Linked DNA regions of Homo sapiens: regions 1, 3 and 4 are each linked to region 2. The links come from fine-mapping of genetic effects on gene expression. A gene starts in region 2. Each other region holds a variant in brackets. All regions are shown on one strand. Distances are from middle to middle.

Region 1 (6,172 bases), 46 kb after region 2:
TTTATAATTAAAGATGTTGAGCATCTTTTCATGTGCTTCTTTTCCATTCATATCCCTTCACTGGTGACAGGTCTGTTCAAGCCTTTTGTCCATCTTTTATTTGATTATATTTTTTTTAGTTGTAAGAGTTCTTTTTTCCTTTTTTTTTTTCTGAGACAGAGTTTCGCTCTTGTCGCCCAGGCTGGAGTGCAGTGGCACGATCTGGTGCACTACAACCTCTGCCTCCCGGGTTCAAGCGATTCTCCTTCCTCAGCCTCCCAAGTAGCTGGGATTACTGGCATGCACCACCACACCTGGCTAATTTTTGTATTTTTAGTAGAGATGGGATTTCACCATGTTGGCCAGGCTGGTCTTGAACTCCTGACCTCAGGTGATCTGCCCACCTCAGCCTCCCAAAGTGCTAGGATTACAGGTGTGAGCCACCGCACCTGGCATGTGAGTTCTTATTTATTCTGGATATAAGTCCTTTGTCAGATATGTATTTTTGCAAAGCTTTTCTTCTAGTTTTTTGTTTTATTTCTCCTTAAGAGTGTCTTCTGAAAAGCAGAGGTGAGGTCTAGTTTATCTATTTTTTATAAATAGGTCTGGTTTCTCTATGAATGAAGTCTAGTTTATCTATTTTTGCCTGCTTTTGTGTCCTAAGATTTGTTTGTCTAACCACAGTCACAGTGATTTTTGCCTATGTTTTCTTCTAGAGGTATTATAGCTTTGTACTTTATGTTTAGATCTATGATTCGTTTAATTTTTGTCCATGGTATGAGATATGGGTCGAGGTTCATATTGTTTGCGTATAGACGCTTATTTGTTCCAGTACCATTTGTTGAAAAGATTATCCTTTACCTCCATTAAATTGCCTTTGTGCCTTTGTGGGGAAAAAAGTCTGTTGTGATTTTGCTTGGGATATCATTGAATCTCCCCAGTTTAGGGAATCCTTTCAACTTAACAATATTGAGTCTTCCAATTCATAGATATGGCATAACTCTCCAATTATGTAGAGTTTTAAAAACTTCTTTCAATTTTTGCCTCATACTTTTTTTTTTTTTTTTTTTTTTTTTTAGACAGAGTCTCACTCTGTCACCCAGGCTGGAGTACAATGGTGTGATCTCAGCTCACTGCAACCTCCACCTCCCGGGTTCACACCATTTTCCTGCCTCAGCCTCCTGAGTATCTGGGACTACAGGCACGTGCCACCATGCCCGGCTAATTTTTTGTATTTTTAGTAGAGACAGGGTTTCACCATTCAGCCAGGATGGTCTTGATCTCCTGACCTCGTGATCTGCCCACCTCAGCCTCCCAAAGTGCTGGGATTACAGGCGTGAGCCACCACGCCCGGCCCAATTTTTGCCTTATACCTTTTAAGGCTACTTTATTATATCTTCTTGGTGAATTAAACACTGTATCATTATGTTGTGATCATCTCTATTAGTGCATTGTGCTTTAAAACATATTTTGTTTTATATCAAAATTGCTACACAGTCTCTCATTTGGTTATTTTTTCCTTCACATATCTTGATTCATCTTTTTTTTTCTTCTTCTTTTTTTGAGACAGTCTTACTGTGTTGCCCAGGCTGGAGTGCAGTGGTATGATCACAGCTCATTGCTGCCTTCACTTCCAGGGCTCAAGTGATCCTCCTGCCTCAGCCTCCAAAGTGGCTGGGACTACAGGTGCATACCACTAAGCATTGCTGATTTTCAAATTTTTTTTTTTTTTTTTTTAGAAATGAGGTCTCACTGTGTTACCCAGGCTGGTCATGAATGCCTAGGCTCAAGCGATCCTCCTTCCTCAACCTCCCAAAGTGTTGGGATTATAGGTGTGAGCCACTACACCCAGCCTTGATTCATCTTTTTACTTTCAACATTTCCATGTCCTTTTACTTGAGCTGCGTTTCTTATGAATGGCATATACCTGGGTTTTGTTTTTGCATTCAATCTTAATATCTCCTGCCTTTTAACTGATCCATTTAGTCCATTTATATTTATTATAATTATAGATATATTTGGGTATGTTTGTATTATCTTACTTTTGGATTTCTATTAGTTCCACTTTTTGTTTCTTTTTCTTTGAGTTTTATTTGATTGTTTTATCTACCCCACTTTTTTCTCTCTACTGGAATAAAATGTCTACATTCCAGTTTTATTTTTTTTTTCAGTTGTTGCCCTTGAAATTGCTTTTTTTGAGCTAAAGGCAATTAAACCCTTGAAGTTTTACCACGTGTATTTAATTAATGATATCTCATATTAAACAATATCTTAACACCCTCCCTACCCCTCCGCACAAATGCTAGCTAACACTTTAGGACACTGTAACTCCAGTCTTACTTTTCCTGATTTATACACTATTATTCTCCAACATTTCACATTCCTTCTTCTTAATATCACAAATAAAATTATTATTTTATACAGATGATTTTTGGATTGGCTTTAGCTACACTTAACTATTTTTTAAATTTATTTATTTTTGAGACACGGTCTCACTCTGTCACCCAGGCTGGAGAGCAGTGGCACAATCACCGCTCCCTGTAGCCTTGACCTCCCTGGGCTCAGGTGACCCTACCATCTCAGCCTCCCAAGTCGCCTGGACTACAGGTGTACACCACCATGCCTGGCTAATTTTTGTATTTTTAGTAGAGACGAGGTTTTACCATGTTGCCCAGGCTGGTCTTGAACTCCTGGACTCATGCTCTCCTCTCACCTTGGTCCCCCAAAGTGCTGGGATTATGGGTGTGAGCCACTGTACCCAGCCTTTTACCATTTTCTAACCTCACCATTCCTTCTTCTTGCATCTTAGGCTGACCTGGAATCATCTTCCTTCTTGAGGTACATCCTTCGGGAGTTTCTTTGG[C/A]TCATTCTCAGCTTTTATTTACCTGTAAATGTTAAATGTATTTTTTTCCTTTTTGTCTTGGTTCCTGAATGGTAGCTTTATTACAGTAGGTAGCTAGTTAGGTATGAGCAGGGCAGGAAAGGACTTCCCCCCAACACACACACACACACACACACACACACACACACACACACACACACACACACACACTAGGAGTGCTGGGTGACCATCAGGTGGTGGTCAAGTGGTTGTTAACTGTTTCTGTTTAGTAATTGGTCACAGCCAGTACGGGGGAAAGGCAGTCTCCTAATAGAAAACACCTGCAACTGATCAGCAGCTTCCCAGTAAGATCTCCGGAGTGGGAAGCAGCTTACTTCCAAGATCCTGGAAGTATGCCAAGGTATCAAACCCCAAGTCAAGAGGCCAAGCTGCGCACTCGGTTTCTCAGGTCAACCACTTGGCCTTCTTCCACATTGTACTTTTCTTCTCCTTCCTTTCCTTACTGTTCTAAAGCTCTTTGTTTTGTTTTGTTTATTGAGACAGAGTCTCGCTCTGTTGCCCAGGCTGGATGGAGTGCAGTGGCGCCATCTCTGCTCGCTGCAACCTCTGCCTCCTGGGTTCAAGCAATTCTCCTGCCTCAGCCTCCCGAGTAGCTGGGATTACAGGCGCCCACCACCAGGCCCAGCTAATTTTTGTGTTTTTACTAGTAGAGATGGGGTTTCACCATGTTTGGCCAGGGGGGTCTCAAACTCCTGACCTCAAGTGATCCACCCGCCTTGGCCTCCCAAAGTGCTGGAATTACAGGCGTGAGCCACTGCTCCCGGCCCTAAAGCTTTTCAATAAACTTTGACTCCTGCTCTGAAACTTACCTCAGTCTCTCCTTCTGCCTTATACCCCTCAGTCAAACTCTTTCTTCTGAGGAGGCAAGAGGTTGCTGCAGATCCAGACGGATTCACCAACGGTAACTCGGATACCTTCCACCAGTAACAGTTTTGCTGGACACTTCTTTTTTTTTTTTTTTTTTTTTCAGACGGAGTTTTGCTCTTGTCGCCCAGGCTGGAGTGCAGTGGCGCAATCTTGGCTCACTGCAACCTCTGCCTCCCAGGTTCAAGCGATTCTCCTGCCTCAGCCTCCCAAGTAGCTGGGATTACAGGCGTGCACCACCACACCTGGCTAATTTTGTATTTTTAGTAAAGACGGGGTTTCGTCATGTTGGCCAGGCTGGTCTCAAACTCTTGACCTCAGGTGATCTGCCCACCTCGGCCTCCGAAAGTGCTGGGATTACAAGCGTGAACCACAGCACCTGGCCCCTGCTGGACACACTTCTAAGTGGACATTTATTTGCTGTCATCACTTTAAAGCTATTACTGCTGCCTCCTAGCTTCTGTCACGGTGGTTGAGGAGCCAGCTCACGTTCTGTGGTCGTTGGTAGGCAATCTGTCCTTTCTCTTTGCCTGCTTTCATCGTTTCTCTCCCTCTGACATTCTGTAGTTTCAATAAAATGTGTATAAGCATGGATTTATGTATTATGCTTGAGATATTTCGTGTTTCCTGGTTCTGAGACTGTGTTTTTCCATCGCTTCTGGAAAACCTGCAGCCATTTCATCTTCAAATACCACCTCTTTCCCATTCCCTTTATTTTCTTCTTTTGGGACTCCAATATATAAGATCTTCTCATTCTTATTCTCTATATCTCTTAATCTCTTTTCATGTTATCCATCTTCTTATCTCTGTTGCATGCTTTATGTATATAAGTCCAGGCTTATTAATTGTCTCTCTCTCTCTTTTTTTTTTTTTTCTGTTGTTGTTGTTAAGACAAGGCCTGGCCCTATCACCCAGGCTGGGGTGCAGTGGTGCAATCTCGGCTCACTGCAAACTCTGCCTCCCAGGCTCAAACCATCCTCCCACCTTAGCTTCCTGAGTAGCTGGGACTACAGGCACATGCCACCACGCTGGGCTAATTAATTCTCTATTCAACTGTTTGTTTGTTGAATTTTAGATTTTGAGAGTTTTTTATGTTTTTTTTTTTAGTAGAGACAAGGTCTTGCTCTGCCACTCAGGCTTGAGTGCAGTGGAGTGACTACGGCTCACTGCAGCCGCAAACGCCTGGGCTCAAGCAATCCTCCCGCCTCAGCCTCCCAAGTAGCTGGAACTACAGGTGTGCCCCACCATGCCTGGCTAATTTTTTTGATTTTTATAGAGACAGGGGTCTTGCTATGTTGCCCAGGGTGGTCTCAAACTCCTGGCCTCAAGTGATCCTCCCGCCTCAGCCTCTTGAGTCACTAGGATTAAAGGCATGAGCCACCACATCCAACTTGAGATAATACTTTTTATTTCTTGAAGTTCCATTTGTTTTCCCCCAAATCTCTCTGTCTCTCTTCATTTCTATTCGTTTATATGCTCATCTTTGCGATTGCATCTTGTGTTTCTTTAAACGTGTCATATATGGCTATTCTGTATTCCGTCCCTGGGGTCTAAAATCTGTTGCTTCCTTCTTTTCTGCCGACTCTCACTCGGTGGCTTACTTTGTGATTTGGGTAAGTTTTATATTGAAGCCCATTGCTTCGTCTCACTCTGGGCATCCTCCTGGCCTAACCAAGGGAAGCTTACCTCCATATTGAGTTTGCTTCTCTCTTGCCAGTAGCAGGGGGCACCCCAACCCAGGACCACCTCAGCCCCCTCAGAGAGTTTTATCTCAGAGGTGGTTCAACTTCCCATCTTCCCCACCCCTAGCTCTTCCAAAGTTCACTATCAAGAAATGGAAAAATTGCTATAAGACTGGCTTTGGAACCAGCCCTCCCCTCCAGGCAACCTGCCAGTTCATGCCAGCTCTCTGACACTCTCCCACGCCCCCAGCTCCAGCGCCCCTGGGTTCATTCTCCAGCTCCCTCTGCTGAAACCCAGGCTCTTGGCCACTCTACTCCCTCACCCTCCTCAATTTTTCTTCTCAGCACTTGTCGCCACCTGTCATATCTTATGTCTATTTGTTAAACTGTTTAGTGTGAGACATTCCTCCCCCACAAGAATGTGATGACTTGTTCATTTATATATCCTCAGCAACTAGTACAGTGCCTGGAATATAACAAGTGTTTAACAATTACATGATGGGTGAATGAATGAGCCAATGAGACACAGCACCTGTCTCCAAAATGCCCTCGGTCTGGCAGCTGAGACAGATGGGGACAGTCATAATACAAAGAAATAACGTCTGTCATGGGGGAAGGGCGGGAGTGGTGGGGCTGAAAGGAGGCCCCACCCTAGATTTGAAGTCTGCATTGAGGGGAATGAGGATGTGCAAGGCTGAGATTTGAAGGATGTGTCGCCATCACTCCACAAATGAGACACACAGGG
Region 2 (6,257 bases):
AACCCCTACACCAACCCTGCTGCAGCTCTGCCACCTCTCTCCTGTCCTTCCCCTCGACTGGGCGCCACCTCCCCCTCGTCTCCCTCACACGTGAAGCTGCTCCCAAGCTTGAGCCTTAACCCAGCAGCCAGAGACTGGGACTGCCTGGCCAACCTCACACTGAACACCCATCCTGGCCCTCCCCGTCCTGCTGGGTTTGCAGCCTGGGCCCCCAGCCCCACACAGCACCTGCCTGGCGAGTCCTCCTGCCTCTCTTCCCCCCCACAGAGCAGATTGAGACCTGCTGGCCTGGCTCATCAAGTCCCATGAAATGACCCATGCCAGGGGTCCGGTATCACCCTCCCCGTGGTCCCCAGCTTGTATCGTTCCCCAAATGTTTTCCTAAGTAGTTTCCTCCACTAGGACTCCCCCTACAGTGCTCATACAGACATCAGTCCCTTCCCCTCCCACCTTCTCCCAAGCCCAGCCTAAGTGCCTTCCGCAGAGGCTCCCTGGTCCTCTTCCCCTTCTCTGGGCCCTCTGTTAGCAAGCTTATCTCACGCCTCCATCTCACCTCCTAACTGTTGTTTGTTTGTTTGTATCCCTGACAAAAGGAAGTGTCACACCAGGCTGACTGGCCCTTGCCCAGTGGCCCAGGCCGGGACACAGCCTGTCCGTCACAGATCACACCTGGAGCGGCGTTCTCCATCACCCGACACTCTCGGAGCCAAGCCCCAGGCCTACGGGAGCCAGGGCAGCTGTGATCACCCCTACACACCCATTTAGCAGCTGAGCTCCTGAGGCGAGAGGAGAGGAAGGGCAAGGGGGCCACAGTGATGCTGTGACCAAGGTGGGTGCATATCTCGGGTCCCTGCAGCAAAGAAGGGGTCAGGTCTGGCCCTAAGAGCTCATTCCACACCTGGACATTGGCAGGAAAGAGCCCAACAGGACCCCTGCCTGGGCTCTGGGGAGCCAACTTGGCAGCCCATGGTTATTAATGCCCAGATATGCTCCTTCTCACACAGTCTCTGACCCCAAGGAGCCAACAGGCTGCCCGGGGCTATCCTCTGGGAGGGGCAGGGGGCTTGGCTCTGGGTCTGGGCCACTCACGAGTTCTGAGATACCTTATTTGCCTCACCCACGGCCATGTTCCCGACAGAGCACAGAGTGCACAGTAAGCGCTCAATAAATGCTTCTATAAATAACTTTCTTGGTCCACTGAAGGAGCAACAAAGGCTATTCCTACACAGCCCGTGGACCCCAGGCTACAACTGCTCCACATTGGTGGGGGTGGGAGGCCCCTGCCTTGACCCATCCCCTCCTCCCTACGCAGTAAAATGAACATCAGACCTCTCCCAGTGGGGCACAGGGAGACCCCAACTCTACCACGCAGGGGAGGTGGGTTGGGGACGGGGGAGGACAGGAATCATTGGTTTCCTACACACTCCCAGCCCCCGCGGGGACCAGGGTGGGAAGTCCTATCAGTGCCAGGCAGATGGAGCCCTGAGGTCTGGTGGCAACGGGCAGGGTGTTCAGCCCGCAGCCTGCGCTTCCCCGTCTGCCTGTCACCGGTTCCAGGACTCTCACCCACGTGGCCCACGTTCAGAGACCCTGCGGGGCCACCTTCTCCCAAAGCTGGCCTTGGTGATGAAGAGCACGGCTGTCCCTTGCTCAGTGGGGACCCCGGACCCAGCCCCAGGGACAGCTGCAGGAAAGCTGTCCTCAGGAGTTCCCTCAAGTGCCACCCCCTCCCTGAGCCTGGCCCCTGGCTTTCTATACCTGGATGTGCTAGGTGACCTTGGGCAAGCCACCTGCCCTCCCAGAGCCTCGGTTCTCCCATCTGTGTAGTAGGAGCACTGATCTCACAGCCTAAAGAGCAGACCCCAGCTTGCTGGGCCCAGTGACTGTACCACTCTGAGCCTCAGTTTCTCCAGCAACAAAATGCCTGGGAGCCCCGGGAGGTGTCGCTCCCCTTGGGCCCCAGTCCCCTCCCAGGCATCTCCTTGTGGGTCCGCCCCCACTCTAGAGACCCACCCACAGCCATGCTGACCTGGACTAGATCCCACCAAGATACCAAGACCCCCCCATTTCCCCATTTCACCACCATCCCTACCCACTGTCCAACAGCCACCCGTGCACGGATGCACACATCCACACTTACACTCACATACACTCCCACACTCACACTCACACTCATACTCACACACACTCACTCACACTCTCACACTCAAACGCTCAGTCACACTCTCACACTCACACTCACATTCTCACTCACTCTCACACACTCACACTCACACACTCTCACACTCTCACGCTCACACTCACACTCACACTCACTCTCACACACTCACACTCACACACTCACACTCTCACACACTCACGCTCACACACTCACACTCTCACACTCACACTATTCCCCTTCCCACCTGCTGTCCAGCCCTTGTTTGGGTACCTGCTGCCAGGTGGAGGGTCCCACGCAGGGCCAGGCGGCTGGACCACCTTTCAGGATCCACCCCCAGAGGCTTAACCTGCCAGCCCTGGTCCCCGCTGCCTGCCGAGTGAGCTGGAGAGCGTGGGAGGCTCCCAGCCCATCTCCTACGGCAGGGCAGGGCAGACAGCTAGTGCGGAGAGGGAGGGACCGGGTTTGTTTGGTGGGGAGACACCCCTCTCCTGCCCCAGCTGGGCTCCTCCCTCCTCCCTGAGCTTGACTGGGGATGACGGACGATATATGTGAGTCATGGATTTCTCAGAGGGAGACCAGGAGGGGGCAGGGCTGAGAGCGCTGAGGCAGTGATCCTGGGGGATGCCCATGACTCAGCGCCGGGCAAGGGGGCACCTCAGCCTCACCCCTCATCCAGGCAGACAGTGTTCAGGGACAGGAAGGGGCCGGGGATCACTCTGCTTCCTCAGCCTCCATCTGTCGCCTCCCAGGGCCAGTCTCCCCAAAGTTCCCACAGAGAGGCCGGGGTTGCCACGGCAACAGGGCCCTTGGATGCTGTCCGCCCACCCCCCAGGTCAGGGCGACAACTGCCCTTTCCTGAAGGAGAGTCCAGCCTCCTTGGCAGCCGACGGGAGCCAGTGCTGACCGGCAGAGCGGAAGGCAGTCGGGAGGGAGCGGGTGACAGGCAGCCGGGCAGGAGGCCAGCCAGGCCACGCACGACTGACCGGCTGACCTGCGTCCCCCCGGGGGGTGACCCGTCTCCCCTCTCAGTGCTCCTCAAGCACCCACAGTTTCAACATCCCAAGTCATTTTGGATTCTGAGACCCCAGGGGCTTCTGGAAACGGCCTCCTTTAATCCATCTGCTGAGCCAAAGGGGAAACCGAGGCCTGGGTGAAGAGCCATTCCCAGTGGCCCCAAAAGCTCAGACAGAGAAGTGTGGAAATGGACCATGCCCCATCCCCCTTCTGGTCATTCCTCTGTCAGCAGCACCTCCCGCTGCTGGGGTTCAGTGCCCTTCTCGAGTCAGGAGGCTTTGGATAACTCACACTCCCTGCAGAGGCTCCTGTCTGCCCTCCTCCTCCGAGCAATGAGGATAGATGATTCCTCAGTCAGATGTGCTGGGAGGCTTTTACAATGCCAGAAGGGTGAGTGGTGACAATAACAGTAATTACACTCGCTGACCACCGTCTGCATTCCAGCTCCAGAGCGCCCCTGGCAGTGGAGAGAAGTCAAACCTGCTACTCAGACCAGTGCCTGGTACTTGCCAAGCCCTCAATAAATACTCCCTGTGAATGTGGTGATGAAGAAGAGGGAGCTTAAGGCAGATACATGTAGCTCAGAGATGAGAATTAACCTGCCCAAGATCACACAGCAGGGAGGTGCCCGAGTTGGGATGGCGGGAGCACAGGCCGTCTGGCTCCATAGCGGGTCTCCTAACCACTCAGCAATCCAGCACCCCAGGCCTCAGCCTGGGGCCTGGACACGTGGATGCTTGGGGAACTTGAGATTCCTTCTCTCCGGTAGAGATCTGCCTTCTAAACAAGGGGGCCAGGAAAAGCTTCCCCATGCCACGTGGAGGAAGAATGAATGGAACGTCTCGGGCAGCCTAGGAGCCAGGGCTGCTGCAGGTGAACTGCACTCCTCACCTACCTGCTTGAAATCAAGCTGCAGAAAGGAAGGGCCACAAAGCCACCCCGTGGGGTGCAGGGAGGCCATAAGGTGAGAGCTTCCAGAAAACGGCACTGTGCTTCCCACATTCACAGTCCCCAGTCCAGGCTGTGGGCCAATACCTGGGGCAGGGAGGCACAGTGGGGACTGGGCCCATGTCATACCCTCTGCTCTCTCCCGGGGCTGCAGTGGGAACTCCCTTATTGCCAAAGCAGCAGAGGCCAGCCTACACTGGGGGCCCACTAACAAGGGAGGACAAGTGAGTTATCTAGGGGAGGATGGGTTGTCCCTGACATACCACCACCTCTGCCTCAGTTTCCCCAAGGTCAGTCCTTCAGGGCCTGATCAACTGGTAACCCGGGCAGCCTCAGCTGTTCCCCAGGGACCAGGCCCACAGGGCAGCTGTCCCCCCACCACCACCACCACACACACACCCCACAGAGCGTGCTGACCAGAAGGGCACAGATGGAGAGTTGAAGGCACCACTCTCTCTGCAGATGGCTGAAGAGAGTGCGGAGCCAGCTGCCACTCTGGCCACATAGGAGAGGCTTATGGGGCTGCCTGGCTGGGCGGAGTTGGCTGCCCAGCTCTGCCTGCCTCTCTCACCGTCGGACTTTGCAGAGACCTACTATGAGCTAGGGGCAGGCAGGTGAGGAAGCAGGCCCCCAGCTCTGAGTCTGGCTAGAGAGACAAGCCTGGTTCTCATAGTAGCGATACCTGGAGTTGGTATTCAGCATCCAGGGGTCTCTGGGAGTAAAGGGGGAGAAATTCAATGACTTGTTAAACACAACACTATCTGTTATGAGTGCTGATAACAGGACTAATAATCACCTGCTATGTCTGGAGGTTTTATGGTGTAAGATGCTCTGCTTGTACAGATCATTCTCATTTTATCCACACAACCCTGTGGGTTGGGTACCACTTGTATGTTAGAGATGGTCAGAGACATGAAGTAACTTAGCCAAGGTCGCACAGCTTGGACCTGGCTGGGCCTCCAGGTGTGTGGGCTGTAACCAAACACGGGACACCAGATATCCGGCCCCTGCTAGGCACTTCATCTTCTCCTTCTGTTCTCACAACAGTCTATCCCCACTTTACAGAAGGGGAACCGAGGTACAGGGAGGGCTACCCACGCCTTTCTATAACAGCCAGGATCTGAACTAAGCGTGTAGACCCCAGAGCCCCTGCTGGGACCTGAAGGAGAAGAAGGGGGCTTCGATAAACAGAGACCAGCAGGAAGGGCACCCCAGGCAGAGGGAACAGCATTGGCTGAGGTGGAGAGGTAGGGCATGGAGCCATGCTTGGAAGGAAGTGGGATCTAACTGGGCAGCAAGGGGCAGATTCTGGAAGATTTTGAAAGTGTAGAGTTTGGGCTTAAATCAAAGGTACTGGGGAGCCAGAGAAGATGTTTGGGTAGGGAGAGGCCTGATTAGCCCTCAAAATGTGGTCTTCAGACCTACAGATAGCCTGAGACCTGCTGAATCTGAATGTGTATTTTAATAAGATGCCCAGGGGATTCCAGAATTGGAGGTGTGAGAAGCCCTGGTCTAGACGCCAGGGACTTGTACCAGCAATGATGCGGAGGGATGGGCAGAGGAGTAGAGGGGAAGTTGGGTCCGGATGGGGCCTCGAAGGAGGCAGATGGGGGAAGAGCGGGGGAGGAGACTTTGGTCCAAGAGACCAGGAAAAGGGCTGGGACACCCCACCCCCCACAACCCGACAAGTGAAGGTGGGGACCGAGGAGAGGGGGAAGATGTCTGAAACGTCCCTGAAGAATCGGGGCACAGGATGGGGTGCAGATCCGGAAGGCAGAGAAGAGACTGCCCTGTGTGCAATGGAATGGGGGCAGCTCTGTGTCATGTGGGGAAGCCACAGGTCCCCCCTGCTTCCCAAGGCAGCTGGAAACACGTCGTTGGGGCTCAGCAGTGAGGGACTGGGGTCGCCAGGCCCAGAGAAGGTCATGGCATCATTGGCTGGCGACGGAGTCCAGAGATGGTGTGGGGAAAGCAGAAAGCTGAAGGTGCAGGAAACCCTTCGTTTTGAGGGACAGAGGAGAGGGGGCAATGCTGCTGCACCCTCTCTGAGCCCGGAGTCTGTGATCACAGACTCTGGGTTCAGGCCAGCTGGCCTCTACTCCCAGCCGGCCAGCTGGATGACTTGGGCAAGCAT
Region 3 (5,313 bases), 33 kb after region 2:
AAAATTAATGAGCTAATCATCCATTTCAAAGAGCTTAGAAAAAGAATAGTAAATTCAACCCCCCCCCAAAAAAAGTATACGGAAGACCAAAGCACAAGCTAATAAAATAGTAAGCATACAATTAAGAAAATGAACAAAAATCAAAATTGGATCTTTGAAGAGATTAGTAAAATTGGCAAACCTCTGGAGAAATAACGAAGACACTAGAAAAGAAAAGCACAAATAACCTATGTCAGATAGAAAAAGGAGAACATTATTATGACCATAATTATATAAAAAGATAATATTGTGAACAACTTTATGCCAATAAATTTAAATTTTATAAAAAGCCTTAGAAAAGCATTGCTTACCTAAATTGACATAAGTAGAAATAGAAATTCTGAGCAGTCCTAGACATAGAATTTGTATTTATACTCAAAAATCTTCCCACAGTGAAAACTTAAGGCCAGGCAGTTCCACTGGCAAGTTATACCAAACATTCTAGGAATAAATAATAATTCCAAGTTGGCCCCAAACTCTTATGAAGACTCAAACTTGTTTTATGAGGCTGGCATACTCTTGACACCAAAACCCAACTAGACAGTATGAGAAAGAAAAATTACAGGCTACTCTTTCTCAAGAACATAGATGCAAAAATTCTTTTAAAAAATTAGTAAACTAAATCCAGTAACATATAAAAGGATAATGTTAGGTTTAACAAATGCAATACATATTTTACATTACCAAAAAAAGTAATGTAATTCATGACATTAAAAGATCAAAGTAGAAAATTCTAATAATGATCGCAATATATGCAAAGAGATGTTTGACAAAATTCAACATTCATTCATGATTTTAAAACAAACAAAAACCCTTAGCAAACTGGAAACAGAAGGGAACTCCCTAAATCTGATAATATCTGATCTAATATACAGGTATATGAAACACTACAACAGATAGTATACTTTCAGGTGAAACTGTTAAAAACTTTTCCTTGGAGATTGGCAACAAGATAAGGAAGCTCACTATTACCACAGCTGTTAAACTCTTGTTCTGTAAGACCTGGCCTGTGTACCAAGGAAAATAAATAAAATAAAACATACAAGGATTGGAAAGATAAAAATGAACTTTATCATTCACGGATGATATGACGAGTATATGAAAAATGCAAAGCGATCCACAGATAAACTATTATATTCAATGAGAGAGTTTAGCGAGGTTGCTGAATACAAAAATCAATATTAAAACTTCATTGTGAGGCCAGACATAGTGGCTCATATCTGCAGTCTCAGCACTTTGGGAGGCTGAGGCAGGTGGATCACTTGAAGCCAGGAGTTCAAGACCAGCCTGGCCAGCATGGTGAAACAGCATCTCTACTAAAAATACAAAAATTAGCTGAGCATGGTGGCATGTGCCTGTAATCCCAACTACTCAGGAGGCTGAGGCACAAGAATCACTTGAACCTGGGAGGCAGAGGTTGCAGTAAGTCAAGATGGCACCACTGCACTCCAGCCTGGGCAACAGAGTGAGACTGCATCTCAAAAAAAAATAACAATTATGTAAAATTATATAGTAGCCATAAGAATCAGGAAATGAAGATTTTTAAAAAATCACTGCAATAGGCAGCCTCTAAGGAAGTCTCCCAGTGAACCCTACCTCCTGGTATTCACACCTTTGGGTAATCTCATCTTCTTGTATGGGCTGGATTTAGTGCCTCACTTCTAATGAATAGAATATGGCAGAAATAATGGGATGTCTCTTCTGATATTAGGTTATAAAGAGTGTGGCTTCCATCTTGAATACTATCTCTCTCTCTCTCTCTCTCTCTGATACTATCTCTCTCTCTCAGATCACTTGCTCTGGGTGAAGCTAGCTGCCATGTCATGAGGCAGCCCTGTGGATCACCTCCACAGTCAGGCCCTCAGATGAGACCTCAGCCCTGTCCTCCAACTTGACTGAAACCTCATAAGAGACCTTGAGCCATTGCCACTTAGCTAGGCTACCCCTGGATTCCTGGCCCACAAAAATGGGGAGATAAATTTTGTTGTTTTAGCCACTGAGTGTTGGAGTGATTTGTTACATGGCCATGATAACTAATATGACCATCATTTATAATACTTCAAAATATATCAAGTACTGAGAAATAAATCTAACTAGAAATGTGCAAAACCCAGATAAAATTCTAAAACTTAATTGAGAACTAATTTAAGACATGCAGAAATATACAAGATAGGGCACTCACCAGCAGTCTAATACACATGTGGCTGCCTGGTTTATGACAGAGGTGACATTTCTGAATATTGAAGGAAGAGTTGACTTTTCAATAAATGGTGCTAGAACAGTTGGGTATCCCTACGGGAAAAAAAATGAAATTTGACCCTAGCACATACCAGTTACCAAAATCAATTAAAGACCTAAGGGTGAAAAGCTATTAAACTTCCAAGCCATAACATAAACTTTGGAGCAGGGAAGGATTTCTGAAAAAAAAAAAAAAAACACAAAAAAACACTAACCAGAAGTAAGAGTTTAATCAATTAGAATATATTAAACTAAAGAATGTCTGTTTGTCAAAAGACGGCAGGGAAAAAAAAGTGAAAAAGAAAACTCATAGAATGGGAGAATATATTGACAATAATATAACTGACAAAGGAATACTATTCAGAATACATAAATAGCTCCTACAAATCGACAAGGAAGAAATGAAGAGTGAGCCTGAGACAAGGACTTGGGTACAGGCAGTATATCTAGAAGGTCATGCCAGCAGCAGAGTTGGTGGGGGAGGGAGGTAGAAACCCAGTTCA[C/T]GGGCATTGTCAAGGTCACTGCTGTAGGTACTGAAGACTGGGTTCCTTTGGGACCTCCAAGACCCCTGAGAGTTCCAGGGTTGTTTCCATGAAGGTCAGGAGGCTGGGGCATTTCTCCACCATTCCAGGCTTTCCCACATGGTTGGATGAGTCCCTGGGTAGAATGTGGAAAGACTGGCTTTCTGGCAGTGGGAGGCTCCATGACATGGAGGCTGAAATCAGAGTGATGCTGGCCCCAGATGTGTCTGCTATAGAGCCAAATGACCCAATAAGAAGCTGGAAAAGCATTTGAATAGGCACTTCAAAAGAGGAAATCCAACTGGCCGATAAATACATGCCATGGAAATACAACTTAAAATAACAATGAGCCATCACGACCCACCCATGAGATTTCCCCAAATTAGCCATACGGAGTGTGGCTCTGTGGAACACTTAGGAGGGGGTGGAGGATGGCTAGGAGGGGTTGTAAATTTGTTCAACCACTTTAGAAAGCAGGCATTATCTAGTAACATTGAAGATGCTCATGACCTGTGGTTCAGACAGTCCACTTCCAGATACATAGCCTGCAGAAGTACATGCATATTTGTACCGCTACTCACCTATAAGAATGCTTATAGTAGCATTGTTGGTAACAGCCTTAACCTGCAAACATCCCAACATCCACCAGGAAATTAATGGATTAATAAATCATAGTATGTTCACATATTGGAATAGTATACAGCATTGAAAAGGAACAAACTACTTCTACATACAGCAATGCAGATGAATCTTACAAACATAACATTGAGTAAAAGAAGGTGGGTTTCATTCATGTAATCTTCCAAAATAAGCAAAACTAAAACTGTATTGTTTTAAAACTAAAACTAAAGAGCTAAAACTGTATTGTTTAAAACTGTACAGGTGGTAAAACCATAAATAAAAGTGAGAGAGAGATTCCTCTAAGTGTCGGGATAACGTTTCCCTCTCCAGCACAGTGAGGTTGTGATGGAGGATTGGCGGTGGGGGTTTCTGGGGTGGTGGCAATGTTCTCTTTCTTTACCAGGGTTGTAGTTACACAGGGATTTGCTTTATCATTTTTGTTAAACTATGGGCATATCCTGTGTATTCTCCATTTTTTAATGCTTAAATGTTTACCATTTTTTAATGCTTAAAAATAAATAACTAGGCCAGGCATGGTGGTTCACACATATAATCCTTATGCTTTTGGAGGCTGCAGCAGGAGGGTCACTTGAAGCCAGGAGTTCAAGACCACCCTAGGCAATGAAGCAAGACCCCCATCTCTACAGAAAAATTTAAAAATAGCTGGGCATTGTGGTGCACACCGGTAGTTGCAGCTACTCAGGAGGTTGAGATGGGAAGATCACTTGAGCCAAGGAGTTTGAGGCTGCAGTGAGCTTTGATTGTGCCACTGCATTCCAGCCTAGGCAACAGAGTAGATCCTGTCTCTGAAAATCCACCAATCTATCAATCAAACCGAGCCACACACATCACCAATTCTCTTCCCTCCGTTGGGTTCCCCATCTTAGTTACAGACAGGCCACCCCAACTACCCAAGAGTCCAAGACATCAGCCTTGATGATGCTCCAACCTCACCCTCACCCTCACCTGACCTGCAGTGTGGGTTCTACCTCCCAGCACCTCCCAGAGCCTCGCCCCTCCCTTTATTCCTGCTGGCAGCATGACCCAGGTGTGGTGGCTCATCATCACCTGCTGCTGATGCCCAAGCACAATCTAGGACAGCTACTCCTCCCTGGATGCCACTCCAACCTGCCTCCACCCCCTGCCAGAGTGATCTTCTTGAAACACCACTTGGATCAGGAACTCCCCTGGTCAAAGAGCTTCAGTATCTCCCTACTTCCCGAGCACCATAATTGGCTCTTCCTTATTTTTCTGGTTTCTCTCCAGCTCCTCCCACCGCCACTCTGCTCACCAAGCCCACTCTCCTGCATTCTCTCTCTACCCCCACCACACCCAACCCCAAGCCTGTGCCACTTCCCCTCCCTTTTCTCCTGCCTAACCCTGTTCAACACTGTGGTCTTGGTGTAGAAGTCACCTCCCACAGGAAACCCTCCTGCCCTGCACCACCCGGGCCAGGCTGGGTGACACCTCTCTCCCCACTCTAACATCTGCTAGCGGAAGCAGCCAAGCCCACAGGCTCCAGGCACTCCAGAGAGGTCTGTGTTCTTGCAGCCTGGGTTCCTGGGTAAGGGAACAAATGCAGGGCCTGTCTGAGACCAGAGGCTCCCACTGTGCCAGGCACAGCCTGAAAGCAGGTCTGGCGTGCTTCTGAGAAGCAGGCTTCTCAGCCTTAGCAAAGCTTTCCCTGGACCAAGCCTGGAGGGTGTAGAGAACCACGTTGAGACCACGGAGTCTAACCCCAGGCCCTTCCCCCGTTTTCCTTCCAGGAGCAAGCAACCTAAGCCACCCAGATTTTTGTTTAACCCAATGGCCTTCTCCATAAAGGACGAGTTGAATTTCCTACCCATGCAGGGGATGAGAGGCCTTGGAGTCTAATGTGACATAAAAATTAATA
Region 4 (5,000 bases), 21 kb after region 2:
GCGGGGCTTATTGCCAGCACTTAAGCAGTGCTTTTAGGAAGCCGAGCCAACTGATAGCATTGTGCGTGCCTTTTTTTTTTTCCATTTTAGAATTGTTTCCATTATAGCTGTTCTAATGTTATTTGTGCAATCAAAACAAAACCAAATCAAACCCACAAGTATCTAGGTACATAATGTATATAAATAGAATCTGAAACCAAATGTTGGACTGTAGTGGGGGTGCATAGGGCTGCTCCCCAGCTGTCACAGCTGGCCCCAAAGCACGCCATACTCGGAGGCATAGCTTTAGAAGAGCTGACAGGAGACGCAGTGGTGCCTCCCTGAGGTTACGCCAAGTCATGCCAGAACTAACACCCGAGCAGGCAGCTCTGGCTGCTGAAGAAAGAGAGGGCAGGTGGGCGCAGCTCCTAAGACAGAGAAGGTGTTTTTGTTTCCGGCACAGCCCGACACAGAATGGCTCAGGTCCACCTCTGCAGCTTGACACAGATTCTATTTGCCATGCAGACTGATCTCAGCAATTTGGGGCTGCTGTGGCCCCACAGGGAGGAAACCGAGCTGCATCGCACAGAAGGGTCAGCCACATCCCCCAGTTGCATGGGGATAAAGCCCTCTGCTTTTCCACTTGTCTCTGAATTCCTGTCCCAGGAATTAGGATTTCTTGTGCAGGCTGGAATGAGCAAAATACTTAGGGTGTAACATTTAAGGAGGTGCCCACCGTCAGTGCCAATGGCCCTGCACCTCACTTTAATCTTCATGTGATTCTATTAGGCAATCTCTATTATTATCCCATTTCGTTGTCCAAAAAAGGAAAAAAAAAAAAAAAAGAAAGGAAGAAAAAAAGAAAAAGAATAAGGCTCAGAGAGCTGATGTTACTTGCCCTGAAAAGTGACAGAGCCAAAATTCAAACCCAGACCCATCAGATTCCAGCACCTAATGGCTTAACCATTGGGCCATCCTTTCTCCTGAGTACATGGGCACCCAGGTGATCCTCAAGTGACCAGTGCGGCAGAAAATACGCTGAGGCTGAGTGTGCAGGCGGCAGCTGCAGTCCCAGCTCTGTCCAGGCTCACCGGGTGACCTTGGGCAAGTCTCTTTTTTTCTCTGTGCCTCAATTTCCTTGTTTATAGAAGCTGGTGGCTATGCTGGGCCAAGAGTCACAAACTACAGTGCCCACAGCGGCCAGGCTGCAAAGCTAATGAGAGCAGGAAGGGGGCAGGGTGGGAGACAATAGGGAGTGGGGGGACCTGGGGTGAACTGGAGAGTATGGGCCACGCTGGGGAGCACTGCCCAGCTCCAGTGAACTGTCACTTGAGGAAATATGAGCCCCATGTGGCCTGATCCTTCAGTTTTTTCAAGGAAGCCAGAAATTTGAAATTAATGTGAAAATCTTAATTGTTATAAGTTGGGGATGAATTCAAATGGATTTAAAGCCTGTCATAAGCCAAACAAAGCCTATCTAAGGCTAGATCTCACCCTCGGGGCCTCCAGCAAGCAACCTCTAGATTCCATGTCAGAAGCTGTAAGTGTTCCTCAATATCCACCTCCCCTTTCTATACCAATAGAACCCCATATTTTCGCTGGGTTCATGGCCCCCTACAATAAAGACATTATTACCTAACATTCCTTGGAACTGGGTGGCCACATGACCAAGTTCTGAACAATAGGATGCAGCCATCAGTAAAGTCTGCAAATCTTGCATCATGCTCTTAAAAAAAAAAAAAGAGGTGCACCCTTTTGGAGGAGCAAAAAGGGAAGGGGTATGAGTGCCCAAAGTCCAGGAGCCACCACAGCCACCGTGCAGCCTGGTCCCTCGCATGGGATGGAAGTAAACGGCTTCTTGTTTATATGGGTTCTTACTCTTGAGTTTGTTACAGCAGCCAAAGTCATAACCTACCTAGCACAGGCTCTTTCAGGGATCTTCCTCAGGGCTCATAATTTTAAAGCCAGAAGGCTCCCACAATCCTCAATTCCCACCCCCATTCCTGACCATATACCTATTTTACAGATGGGGAGACCAAGGTTCAGAAAGGTGGAGAGTCTGTAACTTAATGAGTGAACAGCCTCTCTAAATGCAGACACAGCATAAATAGGACCCTTCTTCTACCCCAAATAAAGCTGCCAGGAGCTCATGTCTGGGAAAAGGGACTACAAGGGTGGGGACGGTGCCACCCGCATCCTCTCAGGGGCCACCGTGTGCTAGGCAAAGCCTTTCTTCACTGCTAGGGGCCCCTACAAGTCCCAGGCTTGCACCCCAACCCCGTGTTTCTTTGTTGTCTGCCCCCAGCCCGCAAGCCCATGTCTCTCTGGGCTGAAGAGGCCTTCAGGACATCCTTTTTTTTTTTT[G/TG]AGATGGAGTCTCGCTCTGTCACCCAGGCTGGAGCGCAATGGTGCCATCTCAGCTCACTGCAACCTCCGCTTCCCAAGTTCCAGTGATTCTCCTGCCTCAGCTTCCCGAGTAGCTGGGATTACAGGCATGCGCCACCACGCCTGGCTAATTTTTGTATTTTCAGTAGAGACAGGGTTTCACCATGTTGACCATGCTGGTCTCAAACTCCTGACCTGAAGTGATCCGCCCGCCTATTCCTCCCAAAGTGCTGGGATAACAGGCATGAGCCACCATGCCTGGCCAGCACTGGTAATTTTTTAAAGCTCCTTCTACCCCTATACACCCCCACCCCCACACCCGCCCGATGGCCCCAGGCGACTGCAGGGTTGGGGCATGTGAGTCTGGTGGTTTCGCCCTAAGGGTCCTGGGTATCTGGTGCTCGGCACTTTGCCAGTCTCAGCCACTGGCTCAGCCTTTCCCCTGGAGATATAGAGGCTATGGGGGCAGTGATCTGGAAGGCCAGCTGTGTAGAAGTCCCTGAGGGTCAAAGTCTAGGTCTGGCAGTGTTGGAGAATAAAACCCTTGGCTGGCCAAACACTGGGAGGCTGCACCTGCTGCTCTGCAAATATGCCTGCCCCTGCCTGAGCAGGAGGCCTCAGCCAGCCCTCAGCAGGAACCCAGCCAGGGCCACCCACCCCAGCCATGCTAAGCCTCTGCCAGAGTGAGAGAGGCCCGCGTGGGCCAGGGGTGGCACAAGAGTCACTCTCAGGGTGGGCCAAAGGGTATCACAGAGACAGCCCGGCCCTGGAGCCATGCAGACCAGGAGCCGGGTGCCACCTCCAACACCAACTCACAGTGACTTTGGGCAAGTCCTTTTTTTGTCTTGAACCTCAGTGGGCCTAGTCTTGGCAACTGTGCAGTCGAGTGTCCAGCCCAGGGTCTAGACCAGAGCCAGTGGCAGCAAACAGCCCTGTTATCAAGAAGCAACATAACAAGAAGAAAGGAGAAAAAAGGTAAGCTGATTTTTCCTTTTCTGAGTGTTTGCAGAAGTCAACAGATAATGTCCAAGGTTAATAAATCAGGAAATGGCAGTAGAAGCATGTTATTTATGGCTCTGGAGGTAACTGCCACATGAGCTCGAACTATTAGAAGTGGTTGCCTCTGGGGAGGGGGCTTGCAGGAAATGGGCTTTTCACTATAAGTCCTTTTTACCAGTTCGTGTTTTTTAATGTCTATTTAGAAGTATTTATTAAAAAGTGACTCTGCCCCTCCACTCTTGATTTTCCAGGTCATCCCTGTTAACAGAAGTATTTTTGGCCTATAAGGCCATGTATAGGGTTAAGTGCTCAGACTGTGGAGTTGGGCTGCCAGAGTTCAAATCCTTGCTCTGTAACTTACCAGCTGTGCCGCCTTGGGCAAATTACTTAACCACTCTGTTCCTGTTTTCTCATATGTAGAATGGGAGTAATAATAATTCAATGCTCCTGGTTTACACAGTAAACATTCAGTAATTGTGAGACATGATTATTATATATCCCTGTAACTCATATATGCAATTGTTTTACAAAAATAGAATTAGTATGCTATACACAGTGTTTGCAACTCGCTTTTCTTTCTCTTGCCAAGTTATAATGGATATCATTTCTGCTTAGAATGTATAGTTCCATCTCATTCTTTTTCATTAGTACAAGAATTCCATTGCATAGAATGTAAAATTATTTAGCCATAACCCTCTATTGAAGGAAATTAAGGGGTCCTATTTTTTAGTGTAATACACTTTGCAGTAATTAACATATATATTTTGGCACATGTGTGGCTATTTCTAAAGGAAAGATACCTAAAAGAGGGATTACTAGGTTATAGAATTGTGCAATTAAAAATTGTACAGATACTTGAGCCGGGGAGGTCAAGGCTGCAGTGAGCATGATGGCACCACTGCATTTCAGCCTGGGTGACAGAGCAAGACCCTGTCAAAAAAAAAAAAAAAAAGGTATAGACACTGCTAAATTGCCCCCTTAAAAAGTAGTACCAATTTAGAGTCCCACCATATCCATTCCAATGTGGAGGTGATCTCTCTAGATGGGCAAAAAATTGTTTTAGTGTGCCTATTGTAATTCTGAGTGGAACCGAGCATCTTTTCATAACTTCATCATCCATTTTTCTTTCTTCTCCTGTGAAACAAATGTTTATATCCTTTATCCAACTTAAAAAAAAGTAATACTGTTTATTTAACTTCAAAAACATTTCAGCATTCTAAACATACAAAAAAAATAACAGAATGTTGCAAATCGTGTTTAAGGACAGAAGGTTCCTGAATTTTCATTGCAGTGACTCTTTGCTTTAGTGACAATGAAGAGTTCTACAGTTTAAAAACCACCACACTTAACTAAAAAACAAAACAAAAACTAAACACTTCTCATGCCAGCTGACCCCCCCATCTTTGCCTTTAGCTAAGAATGGCAGCAGAAAGCTGTCACCACATACAGAAACAAGACAACTTGAAGCTAAATGAATGCCCACTGCACAGTGAACCGGTCCAGCGTCACGGTGCATGCCCTCAGCTATGGCCCCTCCAAAAGGCACCTTCCCCACAGCCTCAATGCCAGACAAGAAGCATCAAGAGCTTGCCTCAGTTGTTTTATTCTTTTTACAAACTATGGACATATACAGTTGATAA

What was found.
Region 1: its variant is fine-mapped to the expression of ADGRG1 in whole blood (INTERVAL, PIP above 0.99).
Region 3: its variant is fine-mapped to the expression of ADGRG1 in whole blood (TOPMed, PIP 0.98).
Region 4: its variant is fine-mapped to the expression of ADGRG1 in whole blood (INTERVAL, PIP above 0.99).

Annotation. Positions count from the first base shown.
Region 1 is chr16:57,578,942-57,585,113 of GRCh38, reverse strand. The region is part of intron 1 of LOC105371291 (a long non-coding RNA gene); the gene reads left to right. Among named protein-coding and RNA genes, the nearest start is that of ADGRG5, 39 kb to the right of the region's middle. The variant C/A (reference allele first, on the strand shown) is at 2,843.
Region 2 is chr16:57,624,977-57,631,233 of GRCh38, reverse strand. It overlaps ADGRG1 (adhesion G protein-coupled receptor G1), which reads right to left and starts at 2,604. Exons shown (of 14, transcript NM_201525.4): 1 at 2,432-2,604. RefSeq lists enhancers at 1-143, 2,112-2,767, 2,768-3,423 and a silencer at 2,493-2,562.
Region 3 is chr16:57,592,383-57,597,695 of GRCh38, reverse strand. All of the region lies in intron 1 of LOC105371291 (a long non-coding RNA gene), which reads left to right. LOC107984889 (a long non-coding RNA gene) reads right to left here and starts at 2,341. Exons shown (of 2, transcript XR_001752212.2): 1 at 2,222-2,341; 2 at 1-203. RefSeq lists an enhancer at 4,705-4,784. The variant C/T (reference allele first, on the strand shown) is at 2,781.
Region 4 is chr16:57,605,064-57,610,063 of GRCh38, reverse strand. It overlaps LOC105371291 (a long non-coding RNA gene), which reads left to right and starts at 3,042. Exons shown (of 4, transcript XR_933627.4): 1 at 3,042-3,336. It also overlaps the pseudogene HMGB3P32. RefSeq lists an enhancer at 118-217. The variant G/TG (reference allele first, on the strand shown) is at 2,344.